Linked DNA regions of Homo sapiens. The protein of the gene in region 1 purifies or fractionates together with the protein of each later gene. This does not show direct contact. Each region holds a gene or a part of one and is shown in the gene's direction. Other genes may lie near its edges.

What was found.
Region 2: the proteins of FSTL4 (region 1) and FOXRED2 purify together in Homo sapiens (affinity purification with mass spectrometry; one large-scale study listed by BioGRID and IntAct). This does not show direct contact.
Region 3: the proteins of FSTL4 (region 1) and PCSK6 purify together in Homo sapiens (affinity purification with mass spectrometry; one large-scale study listed by BioGRID and IntAct). This does not show direct contact.
Region 4: the proteins of FSTL4 (region 1) and EIF2A purify together in Homo sapiens (affinity purification with mass spectrometry; one large-scale study listed by BioGRID and IntAct). This does not show direct contact.
Region 5: the proteins of FSTL4 (region 1) and BMP1 purify together in Homo sapiens (affinity purification with mass spectrometry; one large-scale study listed by BioGRID and IntAct). This does not show direct contact.
Region 6: the proteins of FSTL4 (region 1) and ABHD12 purify together in Homo sapiens (affinity purification with mass spectrometry; one large-scale study listed by BioGRID and IntAct). This does not show direct contact.
Region 7: the proteins of FSTL4 (region 1) and ETV3 purify together in Homo sapiens (affinity purification with mass spectrometry; one large-scale study listed by BioGRID and IntAct). This does not show direct contact.

What each region holds. Positions count from the first base shown.
Region 1 is NC_000005.10:133,200,042-133,203,541, reverse strand, and holds part of FSTL4 (follistatin-related protein 4 precursor), read left to right. Parts: intron 1-1,499; coding exon 1,500-1,609; intron 1,610-3,500.
Region 2 is NC_000022.11:36,493,541-36,497,040, reverse strand, and holds part of FOXRED2 (FAD-dependent oxidoreductase domain-containing protein 2 isoform 1 precursor), read left to right. Parts: intron 1-786; exon of another isoform or gene 787-832; coding exon 833-1,074; intron 1,075-3,237; coding exon 3,238-3,408; intron 3,409-3,500.
Region 3 is NC_000015.10:101,392,208-101,395,707, reverse strand, and holds part of PCSK6 (proprotein convertase subtilisin/kexin type 6 isoform PACE4-AI preproprotein), read left to right. Parts: intron 1-2,283; coding exon 2,284-2,496; intron 2,497-3,500. UniProt on the Homo sapiens protein: Serine endoprotease that processes various proproteins by cleavage at paired basic amino acids, recognizing the RXXX[KR]R consensus motif.
Region 4 is NC_000003.12:150,549,787-150,553,286, forward strand, and holds part of EIF2A (eukaryotic translation initiation factor 2A), read left to right. Parts: intron 1-2,569; coding exon 2,570-2,639; intron 2,640-3,500. UniProt on the Homo sapiens protein: Functions in the early steps of protein synthesis of a small number of specific mRNAs. Acts by directing the binding of methionyl-tRNAi to 40S ribosomal subunits.
Region 5 is NC_000008.11:22,206,872-22,210,371, forward strand, and holds part of BMP1 (bone morphogenetic protein 1 isoform 3 precursor), read left to right. Parts: coding exon 1-110; intron 111-431; coding exon 432-645; intron 646-2,573; coding exon 2,574-2,824; intron 2,825-3,500. UniProt on the Homo sapiens protein: Metalloprotease that plays key roles in regulating the formation of the extracellular matrix (ECM) via processing of various precursor proteins into mature functional enzymes or structural proteins.
Region 6 is NC_000020.11:25,321,336-25,324,835, reverse strand, and holds part of ABHD12 (lysophosphatidylserine lipase ABHD12), read left to right. Parts: intron 1-1,405; coding exon 1,406-1,511; intron 1,512-3,500.
Region 7 is NC_000001.11:157,131,896-157,135,395, reverse strand, and holds part of ETV3 (ETS translocation variant 3), read left to right. Parts: intron 1-1,168; coding exon 1,169-1,284; coding exon of another isoform or gene 1,285-1,316; exon of another isoform or gene 1,317-2,251; intron 2,252-3,500. UniProt on the Homo sapiens protein: Transcriptional repressor that contribute to growth arrest during terminal macrophage differentiation by repressing target genes involved in Ras-dependent proliferation. Represses MMP1 promoter activity.

The sequences.
Region 1 (3,500 bases):
CCTCAAACCTGAAAATCATGGCTTGCATCACTCCAGCCCAGCACTCTGCCTGCTGACTGCAGAGGAAAGCAAGACGAAAAAAGACACAAGCCTCCAGCCTGCCTGAGGAGGCAGGCCAGGTGCTGTTTGTTTTGTCATAAAAGTAAAAGCCAGAAGGCAGCTCCATTCCTAAAAAGTAGAAGCATCCAGAGCTCTCAGCCATGGGAGTCACAAGCCCCCACCAGAGTCAGCTCTCACCCTGCAGGCCAAGCCTCAGGCTGCAGAAATCTAGACCCTCCTTTCTACACATGTGGCCACAATATCATGATTAGAAAAAGTGTCTCACATTCCCGTTCAGGGGCCCAGCATCTGCCTCCTCTCCTGCACAGAGGGTCTGGGCTTCTCGGGGCCTGTAAGTTGGCTAAGCCCCTCATCGGACCACTGGTCTGCTGCTTTCTGGGCAGTGGCCTAGAACTTCAAGGCTGATGAGCATATGCAGAAGGCAGGAGGACACAGTCTGGCTGGCTTGGGCCTCACTAGCTGACAGAGGGGCTGCCCAGCCTGACCACAGGGGTTTCATGGCAGGGACTCCAGACCACTCACTCATCCTATCTGACTTCACACACCACCTGGCTTCTGCTCAGAGCTGCCATTGTGCCTTCCCTGACATGAGTGCAGCTGGGACACACACCAGGGAAAGGCTCTTGTCTCCTGCCAAGTCCACAGGGGAGAAAGCGTTACCTCCAGGGAAACAGAGGCAGCCGTGCTCTGTCACTACCAATTTGTACAAGGCACAGGGCCTAATTGTTGACTTTCTACAGCAAGTCTCCTGTGTGAGACCAGGACCTCTTCCCAGCATTCTAAATGCAAGACATCTCAACAGCCCAGCATGTCAGAGTGGCATCCCGTAGGATGTCTGCTTTCTCTCATCAGTCCTGGAGTCGCACCTCAGAGAATGCCTGTGAGCAGCATCCGACAGAGACTACCAACAAACTGGCCCAGGCATCTGGCACCAGAGAAAAATGAACTCCCAGTAGACAGTTCCACCACGTGACATTTTCATGATTGACAGCCCTCTCCCACTTTCCCTAGCCTGGCTTACATGTTGAGAAGGTAGGATTCCCCATTACGAGAGGAGGTGGTCTCTGAGCAACCACAGTGATGTTTCCATTCTGGAGACTTACTTCCCTTGGAAACCCCACCACCACCCCTCAGGTTCTCACTCTGCCATCATGGTGGCTGACAAAGTGCAGCAAGGCAGGCTTAACCATGGGGCAGAAGCAATTCGGGCAATCAGTCCTGTCCCACCACTTCCTCTTTCAGGAAGAATGGGTCCCTGCCTAGGATGTGCCTGAACTGCTCCCACTTTGCTCCTGCCTCTTCCCTGAGATTGAGGTTTGTTAGTCATCTCTCTCCCAAGCACCCCTCTGCCGGGGTGACTCCACCTGAGCGTACAGGTGTCTCCAGGTTCAGCCCCCACCTGCATGGGCCCTCACTAGGATTCCCACTCTGTGTTGTAGGTGATCACAGAAGCCAGCACCGGCCAGAGCCAGCACCTCATCCGCACACCCTTTGCAGGAGTGGATGATTTCTTCATTCCCCCAACAAACCTCATCATCAACCACATCAGGTGAGACTGGCCCATGATGCCTCTAAGGCACTCCCCGCTCCAGCTCAGCCCTGCAAGGGGCAGCATTGCCCAGCATGGGACCTGCTCATTTCTCTGTCTCCTCCACTCCCATGCTGGATTTGGACCCCATCACGAAGGAACAGAGAAGGTCCAGTAAAACAGACCCAGAGCCTAGTCCTCATTGCTTGGGGTCAATAACTCTATTATACTGAAGGCACCCAGCTCCTAATGCCCTCAGTGGCCCAGAAAGGTCAGGAAGTCCCATCCTTAAGGTAAAGACAGCAGAGGAAAGAAAGAAACAGTAGCAGTAAATTGAGCACCCTCTGCTTGCTAGACACAAAAATCTAGTCCCAGTGGTCTTAACCCCTATGTTATAGATGAGGATCAGAGAAGTGAAGACACTGACCAATGTCACACAGCTAGGAACTGGCAAAGTCAGACTAAATGTAAAGCCAAGTCTTGTTTCAGTGCACCATTCTTCCACATTCCCATCTAACCACAGCCCATAATACTTTAGGAACCCCCAGAGCATCTGTGTGGGGAGCCCACAACGAGACAAGGCTTCCTGATTGCCATGGTTTGCCACTACCTAAAACAACCACCCAATAATAAGAGCCATGGCCTCAACTGCAGACCTCGGCCCAGCATGGTCAGTCCCCATCCGTATTCACTTCAGAGAGCCCCCAATATCTTCTGTAAACTTACCACTGCCAGACGACCAAGCCTGTCTCTAAGCCATCAAGACCCCAAATGTCTTGTAGCACTATTTATACCTTTCTATAATCCGCCATCAAGCACCTCTCTGCAGAAAGAAATGATTCGTTTTTGCAAGTTGTTGCTGGAGATGCACCCATTCACCCTCACCCAAGGAAGAAAGCCACTTTATGAACCCTCCCACTGCAGAGAGAGCCTGTGCAAGAGCCTCTAAGAGTATATTAAATGATGAAGCCCTCATAAAGCAGCTGTATTCAGCTGAGGGTCGGGCACACTCAGAGGTTCTGCAGTTCCTGTGTGTGGCTTTTAACTTAAAGTTTCTTATAAGAGCAGAGTTTTCTTTCTTGCTATTTCCATGCTCTGGTTCTTTAAGGATGCTTTAAAGATGTGCCTTGGAGGGAGTATTTTCCTCTACTCTGGGGTACAGTTTTTCTAGAGAAAACTACAGAAGAGATTCTGCTCTATTCCTGCAGGTGTACACAGCACCAAAAGGCCTCTGTGAGCAAGGGATTTAGGCACAGGCTCTCAAGATCAAAGGGAAGTCCTGCCTGGAGTCAGGCTTTTCCATACTTCCAACCAGCCTCCAAAGAGGAATTTTAGAAAATCCAGATTTGAGCAACTCCCACCTACCTGAGTCCCTCTGCTAAAGTTCCCTCTTAGATCAAATCCTCCCAATAGCCCTAGGAAGGAGCTAACCTGGTTACAGTCACTGAGGCTCAGAGAGGCAAGCAGCCTGCCCCAGGCTCTGCAGCTAGCAGGGCAGTGTGCCGGCACCAGGCCATCTGGCTCCGGAGGGAAAAGCTGTCCTCAACCCCAATGCCCAGGGTTCTTCCTACCCGCATCACCAATGTGGTCAGAGAAGAGACTGCCCCTACATGTTTCCCTTCCAGGGGAAGAGGGTACTAACAGGACATCTGCACTTGTTCAGCTGCATCTGCATCCTCAAATTCTAACTTGCCAGTTAGTCTAGAAAACAGCAAGGATATAGAACTCTTTTCTTATCTTTGTAACAGGCAGAATCGGGGCAGGGATCTCTTGCCCTTTTCCTCCATGCTCACCATCCAGACACAGACTCTCCCCTTTCTAGCTGGCATGGGCCTCAGGGAAACAGTTCATAAGTATTATAAATGGAGAAGCAGTTGAAGCGCCTCTCGCCTTCCTCCATAATCATTTCCAA
Region 2 (3,500 bases), on another chromosome or scaffold:
ACCTGGCTAATTTTGTATTTTTAGTAGAGACTAGGTTTCACCATGTTGGCTAGGCTGGTCTCAAACTCCTGACCTCAGGTGATCCACCCGCCTTGGTCTCCCAAAGTGCTGAGATTACAGGCGTGAGTCAGCACGCCTGGCACCCCTGTCTCAACACCCCACATGCAAACCATGGGCAAGTCTTGTCACCTCTGCCTTCAGATGATGTCTGGAGCCCAACCAGCTCTCACCTGCTCTACCACCACCACCTCGGTCCCGATCACCAGGCTGTATCACCTGCACCCATACAACAGCCGCCCCACTTGGCCTGGCGTCTGTTCTCAGCACAGTAACCAGAGTGGTCCTTAGAAACCTGAGGCATGCTGATCCCAGCTCTGCTCAGTCCTCCCAAGCAACCAGCAGTGTCACCTCTCGGGCCAGACGACTCCTCACGTCTCGTCATGGGAGGCGCAGCCCTCCTTGACCTCTCAAGGCCTCCGGCCCCCTCTCCTGCCCTCTGCCTGCTGTTCACTCCCCTCAGCCACGTCGGCCTCTTCTGTTCCTTGAACACAAAGTGCTCACATACTCCTCAGGGCTTTTTCCTGACTGTTCTCTCTGCCTGGGACACTCTTTCCCCAGATATCCCATTCAGGTTACATGGAATTTTCTGGTCTCTACCCCACATGTGCGTGAGAGCTGAGCTGAAAAAGTAATGTTAAGTGAGGGGTGTGCTGCTTGATTGACGCTCCTTAGAGGGGGAGATACACACGCACACACACATGCTCACCCCCGGGCTGCACCCCTCACCTCTGCCACAGCACTGAGGGCCTCCCCCGCGTTGCTGTTCTCCCAGGAATTCCACGGCCTTTGAGTACCTGGAGGAGTTCCCCATACAGATGCTGGCCCAGCTGGAGACACTCACAGGGAGGAAGGCAAAGCACGGGCTCTTCGTCATCAACATGGAATATGGCAGAAATTTCTCTGGCCCCGACAAGGACGTCTTCTTTGATGACCGGTCTGTGGGGCACACAGAAGATGCCTGGCAGTCTAACTTTCTTCATCCTGTCATCTACTACTATAGATACCTCCCCACCGGTGAGCAGGTCTCTGCCCTTCCCCAACCTGTGGGCTCCTCAGACCTCACCGTCTGCAAGGTTGTCACCCACCCTGAAACCTTCACACACATGCTCAGCTGACAGGTGGGATGGCTGCGGGACTCTGCCTAGAGACCACTTGGGCAGAAGGTCCGAGAATGATGAACGATGCTTCCAGATTCTGACACATACCGTGACTGGCACAGGCCATGCGGGGGGTGTCGTGCTCTCCGCCAGGCACTGTGTAGTAAGAGGGACACGGCCCTGCTGCAGGTCTCCAGAGGCGGCTGACTGTGGTGGGGCGGGAGGGGTCTGAAGAGTAGAGGGAACTGGAGCTGGTTAACACAGTACAGAGAAACTGGGCAAAATCCCTAGGCCTGTCATTTTGTCACTGTGTGACCTTGGACCATTACTTAACCTCTCTGAGCCTCAACCTCCCCTCTGTAAAATGGGGATTACAACAGTACCTTTCTTGTAGGGTTCCATGAGGTTAAACCTGACAGTGTACACAGAATGCCAGCCCACTGCAGGCACAGAGTAGCTACCAATAAGTGAACAACCTCGGGAACGCACCCCCTGCTTCAGAGCTTGAAGGGCAGTCAGGTAGAAGAGGGTGGTTTAAACAGGGGTTGTTCCCAAAGGCAGAAGTCGTGTCAGCAGGTAGCAGTGACGGGTGCAGGTCTGTGGTCAGTATAAGGAGGCACTAAGAGGCTGGGCATGGTGGCTCATGACTGTAATCCCAGCACTTTGAGAGACCAAGGCAAGCGGATTATAAGGTCAGGAGTTCAAGACCAGCCTGGCCAAAATGGTGAAACCCCATCTCTAAAAAAACATGAAAAAAATGCAAAAATTAGCTGGGCATGGTGGCACATGCCTGTAATCCCAGCTATTCAGGAGGCTGAGGCAGGAGAATTGCTTGAACCGGGATCCGGGAGGCAGAGGTTGCAGTGAGCCGAGATTGTACCACTGCACTCCAGCCTGGGCTACAGAGCAAGACTCTGTCTCAAAAAAAACAAACAAACAAACAAAAAGGCCGGGCGCGGTCGCTCACGCCTGTAATCCCAGCATTTTGGGAGGCCGAGGCGGGCGGATCACGAGGTCAGGAGGTCGAGACCATCCTGGCCGACATAGTGAAACCCCGTCTCTAATAAAAATACAAAAATTAGCCAGCGTGGTGGCGTGCGCCTGTAGTCCCAGCTACTAGGGAGGCTGAGGCAGGAGAATCGCTTGAACCCAGGAGGCAGAGGCTGCAGTGAGCCAAGATTGTGCCACTGCACTCTAGCCTGGGAGACAGAGCGAGACTCTGTCTCAAAAAAAAAGAAAAAGGAGGCACTAAGAGTTAAAGCTGTTCAGTGGGGGAATTGGTCACCTCCAAATTCAGGTTTCCCAGAATAGCGACGGCCAAGTCTTGACTCGATGGCCATCTGACTGGAACACCACAGAAGGGAGCCCACACCAGGGAGAAGCTGAACTAGATGAGTGCTGAGACCCCTCGCCTCTATCTGAGTCTTCTCAGAGAAAGGCCAGTTTGAAAGCAGCCACAGCCAGGCGCAGTGGCTCATGCCTGTAATCCCAGCACTTTGGGAGGCTGAGGCGGGTGGGTCACCTGAGGTCAGGAGTTTGAGACCAGCCTGGCCAACATGGTAGAGACTAGAAACCCCATCTCTACGAAAAATGTAAAATATGAGCTCGGTGTGGTGGCGGGCACCTGTAATCCCAGCTACTCTGGAGGCAGAGGCACAAGAATCGCTTGAACCCAGGAGGTAGAGGTTGCGGTGAGCCTAAATTGTGCCACTGCATGACAGCCTGGGCAATAGAGCGAGACTGTCTCCAACAAATAATAATACAAAATAAAAAGCAGCCACAGTAGATCTCAGTCCATGTGAGTCTTAGGGAAACGCCAGCCTCACGTTGTTAGCTTCAGCACTGCCTTCCGAAACCACAAGGGAAAAGCCTAGTTCCTCTTCCTCATGGCAGCCTTTCAAATATCTGCAGGTGGCTCTTGAACAGTCTGACCACAGCCCAGCATAGGAGGCTGTCGGGAAAGCCGAGCACGAGTGAACGAGGGAAGTGTTTGGGCTGTGTGGGATCCGTGCTGTGTCGGCCCGAGGAGGGGAAGCCCAGCCTCACAGCTCTGACATGGCCCCCTCTCTCCTCCCCACAGAACAGGAGGTGAGGTTCCGCCCTGCACACTGGCCCCTGCCTCGGCCCACGGCCATCCATCACATCGTGGAAGACTTCTTAACAGACTGGACTGCCCCGATCGGGCACATCCTACCTCTGAGGCGCTTCCTGGAGAACTGTTTGGACACCGATTTGCGAAGCTTCTATGCAGGTAACTTAAGCTCCCAGAAAGACAAAGGGTCTGAGCTCCAGGTTGAAGAAAGGTCACAGAGACCCAAGACCCGTGGAGTTTCAGGACCCATA
Region 3 (3,500 bases), on another chromosome or scaffold:
TGTGAGTTTACTGAAAAGAAGTGCAAGTTCATGGCTAGGGTTGAAATGTCCCCTACAGCTTCTGTCCCATGGCTTCCATGAAGCCACTGGAAGATCTGGGAAGTGAAAATAAAGTCGTCAGAGACAGTTAAAACATCTCTACACTCCTCAGACCTGGCTGTTTCCTCGCCTCATTTCCATGTCTCCTTCCCAGAAACCGTTTTAAGGAGGGGAAAGGTTGTTGGTACCTTGATGCCTATGAGGATGGGTTGGTCTCATAGTAAATGCATGCTACATGCTGTAAATGCAAACCTTGAGCATTTCAGGCTCTTGGTATTCAAAGTGGGGTCCAGAGCCAGCAGCACTGGCGTCCCCTGGGAGCTCATTAGGGATGCACACTCTCAGGCCCACCCTGGACTTTGGGGCACAAGTCTGCATTGTAACAGGTTCCCAGGTGACTCCAGGGTGTGCACATTCAAGTTTGGGGAGCACTGTTTTTGGCCATTCTCTGCTCCTGGAGCAGTAAGGTTGCATGCTCCACCTTGCAAAAGGACAACATTTTATAAGTCATTTCAAGTGGGGTGGGGAGTTAGGAGTGGCAGTGTCTAGGACTAATTCTCACCTGGAATAAGGACAGGCTCTGATGGGTTAAATACCTTTTGATTTGCATTGTAGTTGCTTTAAACCGGCTTCAGCTGAATCTCTTCCTGCAGGTAATCACGTGCACACACACACCACCTTCCTGAGCTCTTTGTGCCTTTCTCTCAGAAGGTTAGCTTTTCTGGGAGGGACCTTTCTGTTGAGCTCTTGGCCACCCCGACAGGTTCACCTTGCAGATGCAGAAAGCAGAGTGGACGCGGCAGCCTTAAGCAGCGGGGCTGCGTGAGCTCCAAGAACTTTCCTGTGGGCTTTCTTGGGAGCCTCAAGTTGGAGCTGGAGTCTCCTTGGTTTACAAACCCCCGTGGTGTGAGCGTACAGAGCAGGCGGGTCCACTCATTGTGCTCCAAAAGTGAGTGTGACATGTTTGGTCAGCAGCAGGCTTCAATTTGGCTCTACGGGGATTGCAGAATTGGTGTGTAAGTTATCTTTAAATTGGCCGATTGTTGAGCATAAGTATAAATTTCCTCTGTTTGTTTGGGAAGGACGGTCCTTAGTAAGGATGTGATGGCCAGCCAGTGGCTCCAGTTTCCCGTGGAGGTGGATGCTGGCCCTTCTCTCGGGCCAGCTGTGCACCACCAGCCCATCCAGCCATCTGGACTATATCCGTCAGTTCAGTCTTCCACTCGCTAATCTTTAGCTGGTACTTGTGGCTGGAATGATTCTCAGTGTGGTCAGAAATCATCCATCCTGTGGGTATGGGATAGAGCGGAGCTGCAGGAATCTGCCCTGACTGGCTGCTGTCTTTCAAAGACTTGCTTTCATGTGTACGTTCTTAACAATGAACACCGGTGCACAGCTGGGCATGGCGGCACACTTCTATAGGCACAGCTACTCTGAAGGCTAAGGCAGGAGGATCACCTGAGCCCGGGAGTTCCAGACCAGCCTGGGTAACGTAGCAAGACCCCTGTCTCAAAAAAAAAAAAACAAAAAACAAAAAAACGGAAAGAAAACCTACACACAAATGAGGCCCTGGCCTTGGCTAGTGATATAAATCAGACCACCCTGATACTTACCCACTGCAGAGACCACAGGGAGCTCTGACAGGACACCCACAAGCTGCTACCAGCTTCCTGGACGTAACCCTTTCCACCTATTCTGTCTTCACGCAGAGTTCATGGTCCTATCCCTCTTTGCAAATTTAGCTCTCTCTGCAAGAAGGGTACCTCTTCAAGTATGTTTTCCAGAAAAATCATTCTTTTCCCCACCAGACCAGCTCTTTCAACCCAGAAAAATTAAAGTTGTAAATTCTTCCATCATCTGTAATCTCAGTGTCATTTGCAGCACTGCTAGCTCTCTTTGATCCTAGGCCATTGCGATGGAAATGACAGGCATGGCTCTGGAATAGAGCAGCTTGTGTTGGGACCCTTGATTTTCCTGTGAAGAACAGAGGAGTCTTTCTGGCCCCTTCCCCTCGTATGATCCTGTGATTCTGCAATTTTAAGGCTGCTGCTACAGGCAAAGGCACACCATTAAAATCCAAACAGAGCCCCCAAAACCATGCTCTCAGCAGCATCCAGATGGTCTGAATGCAACCTTCTTATCCCTTTGAAGGAACATTTGGGAGATGGGACTCTAGGTTCGGGGGGAGACCCACCCTACGAGGTTCTGCTGCGGGGCTAAGCCTTGTTCCTCTTGTCCCTCCAGGGCCGGCAGGGCCTGGGCTCCATTTTCGTCTGGGCATCTGGGAATGGCGGGAGAGAGGGGGACTACTGCTCGTGCGATGGCTACACCAACAGCATCTACACCATCTCCGTCAGCAGCGCCACCGAGAATGGCTACAAGCCCTGGTACCTGGAAGAGTGTGCCTCCACCCTGGCCACCACCTACAGCAGTGGGGCCTTTTATGAGCGAAAAATCGTAAGTTCTCTTGGCAAGTTGGAGTGCTTACAGTGAGTGCCTCAGCCCTCTGGGAATGAGTTTCTTCTCCCTTTCTCAGAAAGATGGCTTAGATTGAGGCCAGATTGTTCCGGATCCCAGGGTCCCAGCCTCACCCATCGGCGAACAATTTGAGCCTGGAGGTAAACCCCAGTCCCTTGGCAGCCTTCCTCGGACACTGGCTTTCTAATCTTTGCACAGAAATAGCAGTTAAACCCCTCTCTGGCTTTAGAGATCTAAAAATATTATTTAAGAACGAGGTTCCTTCTCATGATGTCTTGTTTTAACTCTGAAATTCTGTGGTCACATGTCTTGGAATCCAATGAACCCATCCAGTTCCAGCGTGTACAACAGAGTAAGAGAAAGACTTGGTTTTATACTGAGACATTCTAGAAATCCAGGAGTTCTTCTAGGCATTCTGTTGCTACAGAAGCACTTTTTCTGGACACTTTAAGTCGAGCAGTGGTTTCTGTCTGTTCCGCTTACTTAAGTGAACATAAGCATGATTTGTCTTTTAAAAGGTAACTGTTTTAGTACTCAGGTAGAATTTGTGCTTTTTCCTTCCCTACATACTTTCCTACTTAAAAAAAAAAAAAAAAAGAGGAAGGGAGGGTTTCCAGTTCAAATTAATGCAGAATTGAAGTGCAAAGTCATTACGTTGACTTGTAGACATTTTAAAAATGAGACTGTGGAGCTGGCCAGACATGGTTAAATTTTAAAGCTCACTAGCATCTTTTCATTTCTGCGGCTGCTCAGCCACATCTTTCGAAGTTATTTGCAAATTTATTTTTACACTTTTCTGTGGGAGCATACAGGCTTCCTGTTCTCGGCTTTGCTCCGCACCAGTGAAAGGTCAGCTGCCATCGTTCTGTCGCCAGCCTGGTAGCAGCTCGGCCTGGTTAACTAAGGTATTAATTTGTTATTTTCCTTTTCTGCTGGAGTACGCACCCCTGGGACGGGCAGCTGAGATGCTGAATGGTGTCCTG
Region 4 (3,500 bases), on another chromosome or scaffold:
GGTTGCTAGGCACATAAAACAGCAATGTCCATTACGTGAAATTCACATTGTCTAATCTGCTTGACCAGTTGAAGTCACAGAGATAATTTATTCAAAATTGAGTGATTTTCCTAAACTAATACATAGTTCAGTGAATGTAAGAGTTGGGAAAAGTATCGTATTTTAAAGATGACTACACCCCTGCCATGGGATCCTTGTTTATTGAAGCCCTGTGTTTTTCTCTCTCTAACTCAGGCCTAGAGCAATAAATAGTATATGAATGTCTAAAAAGGCTAGTAAGCTTGGAAAAGATTATGTAGATGTTTAATGTATTTCACACAGCTACTGTGTGAAACTGGCGTTTATTTGTTGTCTTAAAAGAACTGCTTGCATTCTAGATTTTTCTTTCTGCTAGAACATATTGCCAATCCCATTTGATTGAAGAGGGAAATCACTAAAAACAGGGAATCACACAAACTCAGAATACACTATATTAAGCTAACTACGCATTGTATTTAGTTTCACAGATACTTGTAACTAAAAAGGATTCCTTGTTAGAAAGTTACATGTAGAAAAAAATTGTTTCAGTATTGAGAAGTTTTTTAGTCCCTATTTATTTTTGCTTTTATTAGTTTAAAACAGTTTATGTTCTGTTATGGACCTGATTTTGTGTTTTTTTCTAATAAACTTTGTATCACAGCTTATCAGGAGTAAATTAAACTGTATATGCTTTTATTAAATTTATTTAATAGAAAAACTAATTAAATCTAGCAAGGCATCTTAGAAGTACAAAATGTCAGTTTGGGCCAGGTGGCTTACAGCTGTAATCCCAGCACTTTGGAAGGCTGAGGGAAGCAGATTGGATTGCTTGAGCTGAGGAGTTTAAGACCAGCCTAGGCAATGTAGTGAAACCTCGTCTCTACAAGAAATATAAAACTTAACATGGCTTGGTGGTGGGTGACATGATCATGGTTCACTGTGGCCTTGACTTCCCAAGTCCAGGTGATCCTCCTGCCTCAGCCGTGCGAATAGCTGGGACTACAGGCATGTGCCACCGTGCCCAGCTAATTTTTGTAGAGACAGCATCTCCCTATGTTGCCCAGGCTGGTCTTGAATTCCTGGGCTCAAGCCATCTGCCTGCCTCGGCCTCCCAAAGTACTGGGATTACAGGTGTGAGCCACCACGCCTAGCCTGAGCCCTATTTTGTTTTCCAGCTTCATCATCCTCTAGCCACACAGGCCTTCTTTCCATCCCCTTGACGCTCTGTCGTTTTTCTTTCCATGGGGTTTTTGCACTTGTTAACTGTTCTCCTTGCTTGTTAACTGCCATTGATCCTTTACATCTCAGTATACAAAACACTTAAGGATGCTTTCCCTAACCTTCCATTTTTAGGTTAAAACTCTCTTTTATACCCTCAGTGGTACCATATACCTTTCCTTTGAAGGACTAAACACAGGTATATGATTCCGTATATTTGGCCAATTATTTGATTACTGTTTGCAAAGTTCAATGAGGTCAGAGACAAGGCTGATTTTCTTTCCTATTATTTCGCCAATGTTCAACACAGGGCCTAGGAGGTAGTTTGTTCGTTTTTTTCCCACTAAGCATTTGTTGACTAAATGAATCTATTTATTTGGTTCAGCTTTAGAAGCATTTAATTCAACCATTTAAAAAAGTATAGTCTAGGCTAGGTGCGGTGGCTCACACCTGTAATCTCAGCACTTTGTGAGGCTGAGGAGGGAGGATTGCCTTAGCCCAGGAGTTAGAGATCAGCCTGGGCAACAGTGAGACTCTGTCTCTACAAAAAAAAAAAATAGCCAAGCAGGGTGGCACATGCCTGTAGTCCCAGCTACTTGGGAAACTGAGCCAGGAGCATCACTTAAGTCCAGGAGTTTGAAGTTGCAGTGAGCCTTGATCATGCCACTGTACTCCAGCCTGGGTGACAGCAAGACCCTGTCTCAAAAAAATAAATAAATTTAAACATAGAAATAAGAAGTATAGTCTAGTTCTGTAGATGATTATTTAATCTTGAACTTTGTTTCCACTTAATTTTTTAGGCTATTACTGTCATTGGGGCCTTAATAAATGAATATGTCTCATTCCACTTGTTCTCTTAGTTTGATAAATTGTGAATATATTAATATTGCCTTATATTTCTAAAAACTTTAAACATATACTTTTTTTATTACTTTATATAAAGCATACAGCTATCCTGTGTTCTGATATTTCCATTTTACAGATTAGGTCACAGATTCAGAGGTGGTAACGTATCCAAGGTTCCACAGGCAGTTATAAACTTAGGTCAGGCTCTGAATTCATGTCCTCTTTACCACAAGACAGCTGCCTTTCTTTCAGTGGTGACAAAGTTTCGAGTTTTATTTAAAAAGTTACGTATTTCTCAGCAATTATATGATTTTATGTAACAGAGTAAGAAAATATGCCCTTTTGTTGCTAATATTCTATAGTTCAATGAAATATTTAATGATTTCATTAATATTTTGACTAAAGCTGCTTTTTTAAAAAACACATTTGTGTTAACTGAGTCTTTATTAACAAAGTAATTGTGGTTCTTTTTATTTTACTTCTTTAGTCCGAGGATCAGAAGGACTGTACATGGTGAATGGACCACCACATTTTACAGAAAGCACAGTGTTTCCAAGGTATGATTTATTTTGTTAAGTAATGTTATAGGGAACATACAGTACAATCTAAAATGGTTTTGTTGGTGGTGTATTTTGAACAAGAAAGGAAAAGAACAGATGAACTCATTTTTATTGTATAATATTTACCGAAGATGAAAAGAATACATATTCTCTATCAAGGAAAATGATCTTCAGATCTGAAAATAGTAACTTAAGCCTATTTATAAGGTAGGGGGAACAATACTAAGAAAAAGTGTAGACACTAGTGTAATTGAATACAAGCCTTTATTTTACAAGAGTTGTATCTTAAGGAATGAGAAAAACTTGCAAATTTGATAGCCAAATCATGGCCAGTAATCTTAGTGAAATCATAATGAAAAAGATATTAAAAAGGGAGGACATATATATGCACATAGTATATAGCTAGCTAGATTAATTTTTTTTTCCCCAAAGAAACAATGGACAAGTAAACCAAAAACTAGTTAAAAATGCTTATCTATAGGGGGAGAGAGTTACAGAATGCGGGGGAGAGAGTTACAGGATGCAGGGGACACATCTGTGAAAGAGCTTTGGTATAGTTTTGACTTTGGACCATATAATTGTTTTAAATTTAAAAATTAAATTAAAAGCTGGGCCCGGTGGCTCACGCCTGTAATCCCAGCACTATGGGAGGCCAAGGCAGGCCAGATCACCTGAGGTCAGGAGTTCAAGACCAGCCTGGCCAACATGGCAAAACCCCATCTCGGCTAAAAATACAAAAATTAGCCGGGTGTGGGGGCAGGCGCCTGTAATCCCAGCTACTCTACTCGGGAGGCTGATGCAGCAGAATCGCTTGAAACCCGGAGGTGGAGGTTGCAGTGAGCCAAAATCAGGGCATTG
Region 5 (3,500 bases), on another chromosome or scaffold:
TGACATCCACCAGTGGTACCATCACCAGCCCCAACTGGCCTGACAAGTATCCCAGCAAGAAGGAGTGCACGTGGGCCATCTCCAGCACCCCCGGGCACCGGGTCAAGCTGGTAAGGGGTCCCCTCCCCACTCCTTATGCGGTGTGGCTGCCCCCGGTCAGAGGCACTGCCCAGAGCCACACAGGCTGCAGGCTGAGCCCAGAGGTCTGCCATCCCCAGGAGACCCCAAGTCTGGCCTGGACAGAGGCCCCTTTCCCAGTATAAATTAGGGGCGTCCCTGCCTTCGCCCTATTCCTGGGCCCTCCTTCACTGTCATCCCCAGCTGTGGCTGCTCCCATGGGTATCTGTGAGGCCTAGGTTTGGGGCCCTCATCCTTGCCCCACCTGCCTTCCAGCCAAATTTTTAATCTGTGCTCCTTCCTCATCCCCCTAGACCTTCATGGAGATGGACATCGAGTCCCAGCCTGAGTGTGCCTACGACCACCTAGAGGTGTTCGACGGGCGAGACGCCAAGGCCCCCGTCCTCGGCCGCTTCTGTGGGAGCAAGAAGCCCGAGCCCGTCCTGGCCACAGGCAGCCGCATGTTCCTGCGCTTCTACTCAGATAACTCGGTCCAGCGAAAGGGCTTCCAGGCCTCCCACGCCACAGGTACTGTCCCCGGTTGTGGGAGTGTTCACTGAGCCTGGTCTCCAAGACTGGGGTAGAGTCGGGGGTTTCAATGCGGGTATGAAGGTACAGAGGGACTGAGCCCTGCGACCCAGGGCCAGGGTTGTGGGTGATGCAAACATTGTGTCCTGAGAACCAGGCCTGGGGGGCAGGGATAGGAGGGTGTGGTTAGGGGTTAGGATGGCAGTGATGACGATGGACAGGAGAGGTGAGGGAACTCAGGGACAGAGAGGAAAGCCCCCAGAGGTCCCCCTGAGCGTACGCGGGCCACCGCAGCAGCCCAGCCACACACCAACCCTGAAATATACTCTATTCATTCTCTGATATTTATTTTTTTATTTTTATTTTTATTTATTTTTTATTTTTTGAGATGGAGTCTTGCTCTGTCGCCCAGGCTGGAGTGCAGTGGTTCGATCTTGGTTCACTGCAACCTCCACTTCCTGGGTTCAAGCGATTCCCCTGCCTCAGCCTCCCGTGTAGCTGGGATTACAGGAGCCTGCCACCATGCCCAGCTAATTTTTGTATTTTTAGTAGAGACAGGGTTTCGCCATGTTGGCCAGGCCAGTCTCAAACTCCTGACCTCAGGTGATCCGCCCGCCTTGGCCTCCCAAAGTGCTGAGATTACAGGCGTGAGCCACCGTGCCCAGCCCATTCTCCTGATACTTATTGACATGTAACATGGATGAGGCGGCATCCTAAATGCAGGTCCCAGAAACAGACCAAGCAAAGATCCCAGCCCTTGAGGGGCTTGCTCGGCTTTCACTTGCTTGTTTATTTAGCAGCCATGAACTGAGCTCCGCTCTGCGAGAGGACTAAGGGGCACGTGGCCTGAATCAGGCATGAGCCCTTCACTCCTGCCCCCCACCCCATACTAGGAACTCGCAGTCCAGGAGAGAGACAAGGCAGGCACCGCCCGTGACAGCATGAGCCCAAGCGGGAGCCAGGCAGGAAGAAAGGCACCCCGGCCTAACTGGGCATGTGTTGGTAGAGGCATTCGAGGCAGGGGGAGGTGCCCAGGCAGAGACACAACCCCAGCCCAGCCCAGAGTGTGCCCAGGTGACAGCAGGTCATTTACTTTGGCCGAAGCAATGGGTGTGTGAGGACAGCAGGTTGTGGGAATGATGTGGCTGCAGAGAAAGGCTGGAGTCCAGGGGGATGCCTTGAGTGCCAGACCAAGGATGCCACGAGGGAGCTTTGCAGTCTCCTCCTGGGTCCTAAGCCACCTGTCAGGGCATCCCCAGAGCTGATGGTCCACAGCCTCCCCTCTTCCCCTTCAACTCAGTCCCTGACCCAGCCCCGTCCTTCCCTCTCCCCACCTCCTCTAGCGAGACCTGAGTGCCAGGTGCACAAAAGCCAGAGGGCCTGGGGAGGAGGGTGGCCCCATGCACTGTCCTCTGCCCTTCCCAGCACAGGGTCACAAACCGGAGGCCCGGAACTCCATCTGGCCCTCAGACCTGCTATGTTTGGCCCACACTGTGTTTTTTTTAAAAATGTGAGCCAACACTTAAAAGTTAGGAGTTTTCACATAAAACCCAGATGTACGGCTTCTCTCTTGAAAATGGAAGCTGTGGCGACACTGGGCCCACATTCTTCCATGACAGCCATCAGCTGGAGAAAATGAGCAATGCCCTCTTTAGACAAAGTGTGTGGTGCCTCGTGCCACCGCTCCATGCTGTCTTCCTCTCGGTGAGCCTCACTGCCTGTTCCCCTCAGCCTAGGGCCAAGGTCCCTCTATTTAGAGATGGGGCAGCACAGCAATGTTCTGGGCCAGGCCCCCACCCACCCATCACTGGCCTCGTGGCCTTCACCCAGGCCTCCATCCTGCCGTGAGGGCACGCCATGGCATAGTGTGCCATGGGGCCTGGCACCTGCGGTGCTCAGGGCTGGTTGGCCCCTCTTGTCCCCTACAGAGTGCGGGGGCCAGGTACGGGCAGACGTGAAGACCAAGGACCTTTACTCCCACGCCCAGTTTGGCGACAACAACTACCCTGGGGGTGTGGACTGTGAGTGGGTCATTGTGGCCGAGGAAGGCTACGGCGTGGAGCTCGTGTTCCAGACCTTTGAGGTGGAGGAGGAGACCGACTGCGGCTATGACTACATGGAGCTCTTCGACGGCTACGACAGCACAGCCCCCAGGCTGGGGCGCTACTGTGGCTCAGGGGTGAGGCCCCCACCCCTCGCCCTCCTGGCCCCATGCCCCACGCCCCACACTGTCCTCCACCCTTCTCAGCCCAGTCTCCAAGACCTAGCGCCCACACAGGCCCCGGAAGTTGAGTGCAGCACGCGTGTGGCCCTGTGTGGGAGCCCAGAAGCCCAGCCTTGTTGGGGCTACTCAGAGACACTGCCCCATCCCCGACGTAGGAAACCAAGTCCTTTCTGGGCAACCTAGAAGTTCCTGCGGCCTCTGACCCAGGCCTGCCTCAGAACCAGTTGGCCACGGCCTGGAGCGGATGGAGCTTCCTCTGTCCCTCCTTTCCTTACCCCTCCCCCAAGGCAGCCCACCAGGGCCTGGAATGGGGGGCAGAGGTTGGCACCAGAGCCGGGGACAGGGCGCCTGAGCGGAGTGGCCCTCACCAGTCCTTTTGCCGGAGGCATAAACACTCTTGTCATTTCCTCTACCAGTTTCTCCTCCTGATGAAAGGCCAGCTTGTCCCAAAGCTCTTGCTGCTGCTGTCCCAGTGGCCCCTGGGCACTGCTTCTTGGTCCATAAAATGGCACGTTAAGAGTCAATGAGCAAAAGTAGGCTTGATGGGCTTTTCCCTAAGGACATGGGCTAGCCTCGTGGGGAGGATTTATTTTCCTCCCTGTAAGAGCTTGCAGCTGCCTCTTCTTCTTTT
Region 6 (3,500 bases), on another chromosome or scaffold:
TTGAAGATGTATCTGCTTCCTGGGAAAGAGATGGAGTAAGAAGGTGGGGTATGAACAGCAGCCCTGGTGGTAGGAACTGTCTCCCCACATGGTCTGGGACAGACGCTCAGGGAGTTTCTGGGAAGGAGTGTGTATGTCCCCATGTCCTCGTGAGTCCAGCCTGGTGACATTTGAGGAAGTGAGGCTAGATGTGCAATGTGCCACATGGACATGGGAGTCACGCAACCCCTGTCTTCACCAGAGACAGCTGTCAGCAGCAGAGCTTCCCCGGGGGCAGGACCCACCAGAGGGAAGCCAGGCCCACACTGCTCTCTGTCATTGCCTCTTTTGGGAGTTGCCATTTTATAAAGCAGGCAAATCCCACCTCAGGGTTCATGCGTTTATTTTAAATTTTTTGTTTTTCAGTTAAACTTATTTTAAAGTTGTGTTCACCAAAAGCAGTAAGACTACAATGGTATATAAGGAAAAAATTGCCCCCATTCTCCCCACACACACACTTTGAAGCTGTGTGAGCAGCCTGGCTTCTGTCTTTCTGTATATCCTCCCAGCCACATGTGGAGGTCGTGTTTCATTTGCATGTTTTTACAATAACAAAGTGGGGCTACCGCACCCGCACCCACAGTCACCTTGCTCCTCTCATCTGCCCGCAGGTCCTGGAGGTTCCTCCAGGTCTAAGGGCCCCATGGTCTTCCACAGTGTGAGGTGCTGGTTAATTCACTCGCTGTCCTGCTGGCAGATGACCTGGTAGATGCAGGACTTCTGCTGGGCCATTGCACTGACTTCATTCTGCTCTGCATGGGTCCTATGGATTCATCCCCCTCGCTGCCCCACACCTCACCTTCTGCTGTCTTTTCTGTGTTAGGCAGCAGTCCTGGAAACTTTGGAATCCCCTTTACCTTGTTTGCCACCCAACGTTCCGTTGGTCATCAGGTCCTGCAGCGCCATCCCCTTTCCTGCTGTCCTTCCCACTCCACCAGGCACCTGAGTTATTCGCAGGCTCAGCCTCCCCAGCCTCCCTCCTGGCTGGCCCATCCTTCAGACCTGTTGGGGATCTTTCCTTCCCTCATTTGCATCTTCTCACACCTAGAATGACCTTAGACCTTAGCGTTCCAGTCTCTACACAGACCTTGCCCTCACTGCAGTCTCTGTCCCTGCCCATGCTGGCTGGCCTCAGCCCATACCCTGCCTGAGGCTGGGCCTGCAGGTCTGGCACCATTGTAAGATTGCACAGGAAAAGGACTTGGTGCTTTCTGAGAGCTTCTGCAGTGTGTGCATGTGGGTGTGCATGTGTGTGTGTGCACGTGTGGATGCATATCTGTGCACGTGTGTGAGTATGCATGTTTGTGTGTACATGTGTGTATTCATCCACCAGTAATCCTAATTTCCATCTCTTTATTTCCTACAGTAAGAGTTCCCTATTTCATTGATTTGAAAAAACCACAGGATCAAGGTTTGAATCACACGTGTAACTACTACCTGCAGCCAGAGGAAGACGTGACCATTGGAGTCTGGTGAGTGCCAGTGAGCTCTGCAGCCCCTCCAGCAGCAGGAAAGGACCCTACATGACTGAGCTGGTGCTGTCTTTGACATTGGCCTCTGAAATGTTGTTCATTTTTATCTTCACCTCTTCCTTTCCTAAAGGAAAGATCTCAGTACATTTGATCCATCCTAATGTTGAGGGATTCAATGGCTTTAAACTCTATTCCCAGCCTTTCAAAACAGCAAAGGCTTTGTGAACAGATTATTATTTTTAGAGAGACTTGTTTCTAGGAAAAACGAAAAGCAAACAAAGAAGCTAGAAACAGGATATAAGTGGCCGGCACAGTGGCTCACACCTGTAATCCCAGCACTTTGGGAGGCTGAGGCAAGTGGATCACTTGAGTCCAGGAGTTTGAGACCAGCCTTGGCGACAAGGTGAAACCCCATCTCTACTAAAAATACAAAAATTAGCCAGGCATGGTGGTGCACACCTGTAATCCCAGCTACTTGGGAGGCTGAGGCAGGAGGATCACTTGACTCCAGGAGGCAGAAGTTGCAGTGAGCTGAGTTCACGCCACTGCACTCCAGCCTGGATGACAGAGCAAGACTCTGTGTCCAAAAAAAAGAGAATATAAGGGAAGAATCACAAACACTGGTTTGAATATATCTTCCATCCAGGCGCGGTGGCTCACGCCTGTAATCCCAGCACTTTGGGAGGCCGAGACGGGTGGATCACTTGAGATCAGGAGTTCGAGACCACCCTAAACAACATGGTGAAACCCCGTCTCTACTGAAAAAAAAATACAAAAATTAGCTGGGCATGGTGGCACGCGCCTGTAGTCCCAGCTACCCGGGAGTTTGAGGCAAGAGAATTGCTTGAACGCAGGAGGCAGAGGCTGCAGTGAGCTGAGATTATGCCACTGCACTCCAGCCTGGGCAACAGAGCGAGACTCTTGTCTCAAAAAAAAAAAAAAATATATATATATATATATATCTTTTCCAAGAGGTGAACATCTAGATACTGAAAACAGCTTGATTTCTTTTCACATATAGCTTCGCACCAGCTGATGATGATGGTGTTGGCTGTCTTCTGAGTATTTACTTTTTTAAGCCATAAGTTTACACTGGACATAAGCCTTGTGACTTCTCTGTGTCTCCTTGGAATACATTTTAATGTTTTCTTCTGTACACAAGTGGTGCTTCTGAACAGCTGAATTAAAATTGACCAACCTCACTGTAGCATTTCCGTTTTTCTCTGAGAAGTGAGCCTGAATCACAGCCCTTTTATCTAGCTGAATTTATTTTTCAGTAGCCATAACGTCGCTTTCCACTGTCTCAGAAAACCACTGTGTATGTGAGAAGCTTCTAAATGAAATGCTGTGAGTAGCTTCCCAGTGTGGATGAGAGAACATTCAGACATTTCTAACAGTGGTCCTTGGTAAAGAACATAAAACAAGAAGGGAGATTTTTGTTCTTAGTAGTTGGTGCTGGGATTAAAGTCTTTTGTCACTTCCTGATTTGATTTAATCTAGCATTTACTGACCAATGTGTGACTGTGGGACTCCTCAGGTTTCTGTCTGAAGCATGACTTGTTTTGCACAGAGCTGCTGAGTGGGACTTGGTCAGCCCTCTTCTTGGTTAACATGAGTCTGTCCTATTGCAGGAGGGTGTTTATGGTGGTGAGACTTAGGCTGGAAGTACTAACAACTCCTGCATACATTATCAGCTACCAGAAAAGGTTTTGTTTAGTGATGTCAGTGGCAAGTGTCAAGGCAGTGACAGCCACGCTGTGTGTTGCTGTGTGTTGGTGGGTGCGTGTTGGTGAGTGCGGCTGCTGCCCACTCTCATGCCCTAGGCAGTCACAATGACATTGGGCCCTCAGGCAGCAGCAGGCCCAGCTCACCAACTGCCCCCACCATCGCTTCATCAGACCCTCCCACCAGCTTCCTGAAAGGAGGGCCTCAAGGCCTAGAGTGGAGCCTGGGGGCCATTCCTGGCCATGCCTGGCCATCGCCTGTCTG
Region 7 (3,500 bases), on another chromosome or scaffold:
AGGGTATCAGGTAATAAAAGACTACACTATCTTAGTGAATAATGTGTCACTTTAAAGTGGGAGTAGAAGAGCTGTTGAATGTGAGTAGCATAGGCACAGGAGGAGAAAAGGCATATCTTTGGTTATACGTAGGAGGGGATTCCAATGTGGCTGGCACTGGATCCTGACAGACAGCTGATTCTGCTCTGTAGTGGGCGAGAGTATATGGTGAAACATGGATTGGAGTTCATTTATAATCCAAAGGATTAGTTTAGACTTCTCTATTAGAATCTGTTAGAATTTCTTTCTTTGGGCTTCCCTGAAAGAAACTTAGAAAAGGATGAAGCAAGTCACGGGAGGAAGATTCAGTGATACTGACCTATCTATTCCGGAACTGTGTCTGTGAGCTCAGGTTGTCCATAGCCTGCTGCAATATGTCTAAAGATTGATCACTATAAGTTTTCTCAGGTTCTTTTTTCCCCTTGTCGGTCTTACATTTCATAGTCCTTTAGCCCTCAAGGGGCTAGAAGGCAGTTTATGACCTCTGCTACTGCATAGATGTAAGACTAAAGGTTCCAGATAATTGAAGTTCTCCTGACCTGAAATGTAAACTCTGTACAGTGGCTTTGCTGTATTCTTTCACATCCCTTTGAGTCTTTGAAGGTGAGGCGGGCCACACTAGCTGCTGTTTTCCAGATCAGGGCATGCCATTGTTTGACCTGCCACCATAAAACAGTTGTACATTCCTTTGTCTGTCTTTTGAGCTTAGGCCTCCAGACTAACCACATCAGGTCTCCCTAGTGATTTGTCTGCCCCCACCTGGGCAAGACCAAAAAGAAAAACTAAGCAGTTAGTGACATGCAGTGCAACCGGACGGAAATGGACTGTAGAATCGAAATTGTAGAGAGATGGAGAAGAAAATGTTTGGGGCTAGGATAAGTGTTCAGAATCTTAAAGTGAAGTTGTCTTTGTAAACCTCTAGGCAAAAACGAGCTGAGTTGAAAATTGAGTAAGAAAATTAAGCTGTTAGGTCTCCTAGATCTACCTGGAGGGCCAGGCTGCGAAAGATTGGTAGTGATTTTTGTAAGTAATACTCAGAGCAAGAATTGTTGGTCTCAGTGGCTACCTAAGTGTATTGAAAGCTGTCAGTAGCTACAAGACGAATGGACATGTATTCCTGTTTTTACAGATACTATTACAACAAGAGGATCCTTCATAAAACAAAAGGGAAAAGATTTACCTATAAATTTAACTTCAACAAGCTGGTGATGCCCAACTACCCATTCATCAACATTCGGTCAAGTGGTAAGATACAAACTCTTTTGGTAGGGAATTAATTTTGAATTGAAAAGAATTTTTAAAAATCCAAATCTAAGACATGGCATGTTTAGGAAGATTTTAGAAACACTAAAATAATGTGATCCTTTGGATTGCCTCAATGTTCTTACTCAAGTCATCTCACTTATAAGGAGAGTTATAGGCTATTCAGTATCAAGATAGATTTCTTTGGTTTATTTGGTTGGTTCCCTTTTCTGCATATTGTTTGTAATCTCCTAGATACTATTACGCTATCTTGTTTGGGAATGATGTTTCATAGGTTTGTGATGATCTTTACGTTCAGGACTCAGTTTTAACACCCAGCCCAGTGGTTCTTTCATAGATGGGAACCTGTTTCTACAAACACTTCCGATTTTCTGTGAAACTACCAAGCTCTCCCTTATCAAGTGAATATCATCAAAACCACAGCATCCTTGATCAGAGAAGGGGGAGGTTCACATGTTTGCAGTGAAAAGCAGTGTCTTTGATCTGCAACAGCAAATCCTCAGAGAAAAAGATTCTGGGGTTACTTGACCTTCTCTCCTGTTAAGTGCAGTAGGGCTTCCCCTCTTGACTTTCCTGGTTATAGCTTTCCATCACAGCTCCCCACATTCTCTCTTGATGTTGAAAGCAGTCTCTCAAAAGACTTTGTTGTTGTGTGGTTTTTTGTTTGTGATTTTTTTCCTTATGCAAATCATACTCCTGCCCAAGAAAATACAGTAGTTCCCCTTATCTGAGCAGTATATGTTCTAAGACCCCTAGTAGATTCGCAAACCACAGATAGTACCAAACTCCATTCATATATATGATGTTTTTTCTTCCCTTAACCCCACTCATATGTATCTGTGATAACGTTTAATTTATAAATTAGGCACAGTAAGAGATTAATGACAATAATAAAATAGAAAAATTATAACAATATGCTGTAATAAACTTAATGTGGTCTTTCTCAAAATATCTTTGTGTACTGTACAGACCTATTTTCAGACCTTTGTGGGTAACTAAAACAGTGGAAAGCAAAACCTCAGATAAGAAAGGACTACTGTAGATTGTATTTAACTGTTTTCTGACCAGTCCATCAGTAAGTACTCTGTCATTGTGGCCTTGTATGCTAAGGCAAAGAATGCTGATCATGCAGTAATACAACTTCTCAGAAAAGCTGGAAGAAACCTGAAAAATTAGTGGGGGTGTGGTTGAGAGAACATAATGTTGAGATCCATTGCAGATATGTAATTACTACACAACAAGTTAGGGCAGTTTTAGCTTGACTCTGCTATCATTACAGTTTCATCTCAACTTCTGTAACCACTCCCTCCTGTCCCTGGGGCATGCATTTAAAAAAAAAAAAAAAAGTGGTATTGGAATGCATCTCTCTAATTACAACCTGTTTTCTTTCCTTGTGCCTGAGGGAGAGGCGTTAGGAAATCAGACCTGTACTCGCCACTCAAATCTTGCTTCCTCTGTTTCTCACTCTTGCCCCTTCCTTGTATGCCTAGAGGAATTGGGAATCTAGATGTATATACCAACAATTTTAAAGAATTTGTTGGTTTTCATACCCCTTCACCCCACTCCCAAAAAAATGTTTCATTCGTCTTGTTCTTCTGTCTTTGACCCATTTTTATCTATTGAAAATCCAGAACTTCAGCCACTTGGACAACCTAGAATGGGGCATTCATAAGCCCTGGGAAGTAATGTGGTTTTCCAGGGCAAGGAAACCTGGATCCTCACTCTGTGAAGAATCTGATCTAGAAACCTAACAATAGTGGCCCAGCACACCTGTTCTGCCCGAAGGCGATTGAACCAACATTGATCTTTAACCCAAGCTCAAGATCCTAATCAAAAAGCCACAAGGGGCCGGGCCAGGTGGCTCATGCCTATAATCCCAACACTTTGGGAGGCCAAGGCCGGCAGATCACTTGAGGTCAGGAGTTCAAGACCAGCCTGGCCAACATGGGGAAACCCCCATGTCTACTAAAAGTACAGGTGGCAGTCACCTGTAGTCCTAGCTACTCAGGAGGCCAAGGCAGGAGAATCACTTGAACCTGGGAGGCAGAGGTCGCAGTGAGCTGAGATCATGCCACTACACTCCAGCCTGGGCGACAGCGAGACTCAGTCTCAATAAAGCACAAGGAAAGCAAAACTGTGTACATTTCTTTTAGTACATCTATCTCTACTACCTGGTTGCTCACATCCTAGGTATAGAC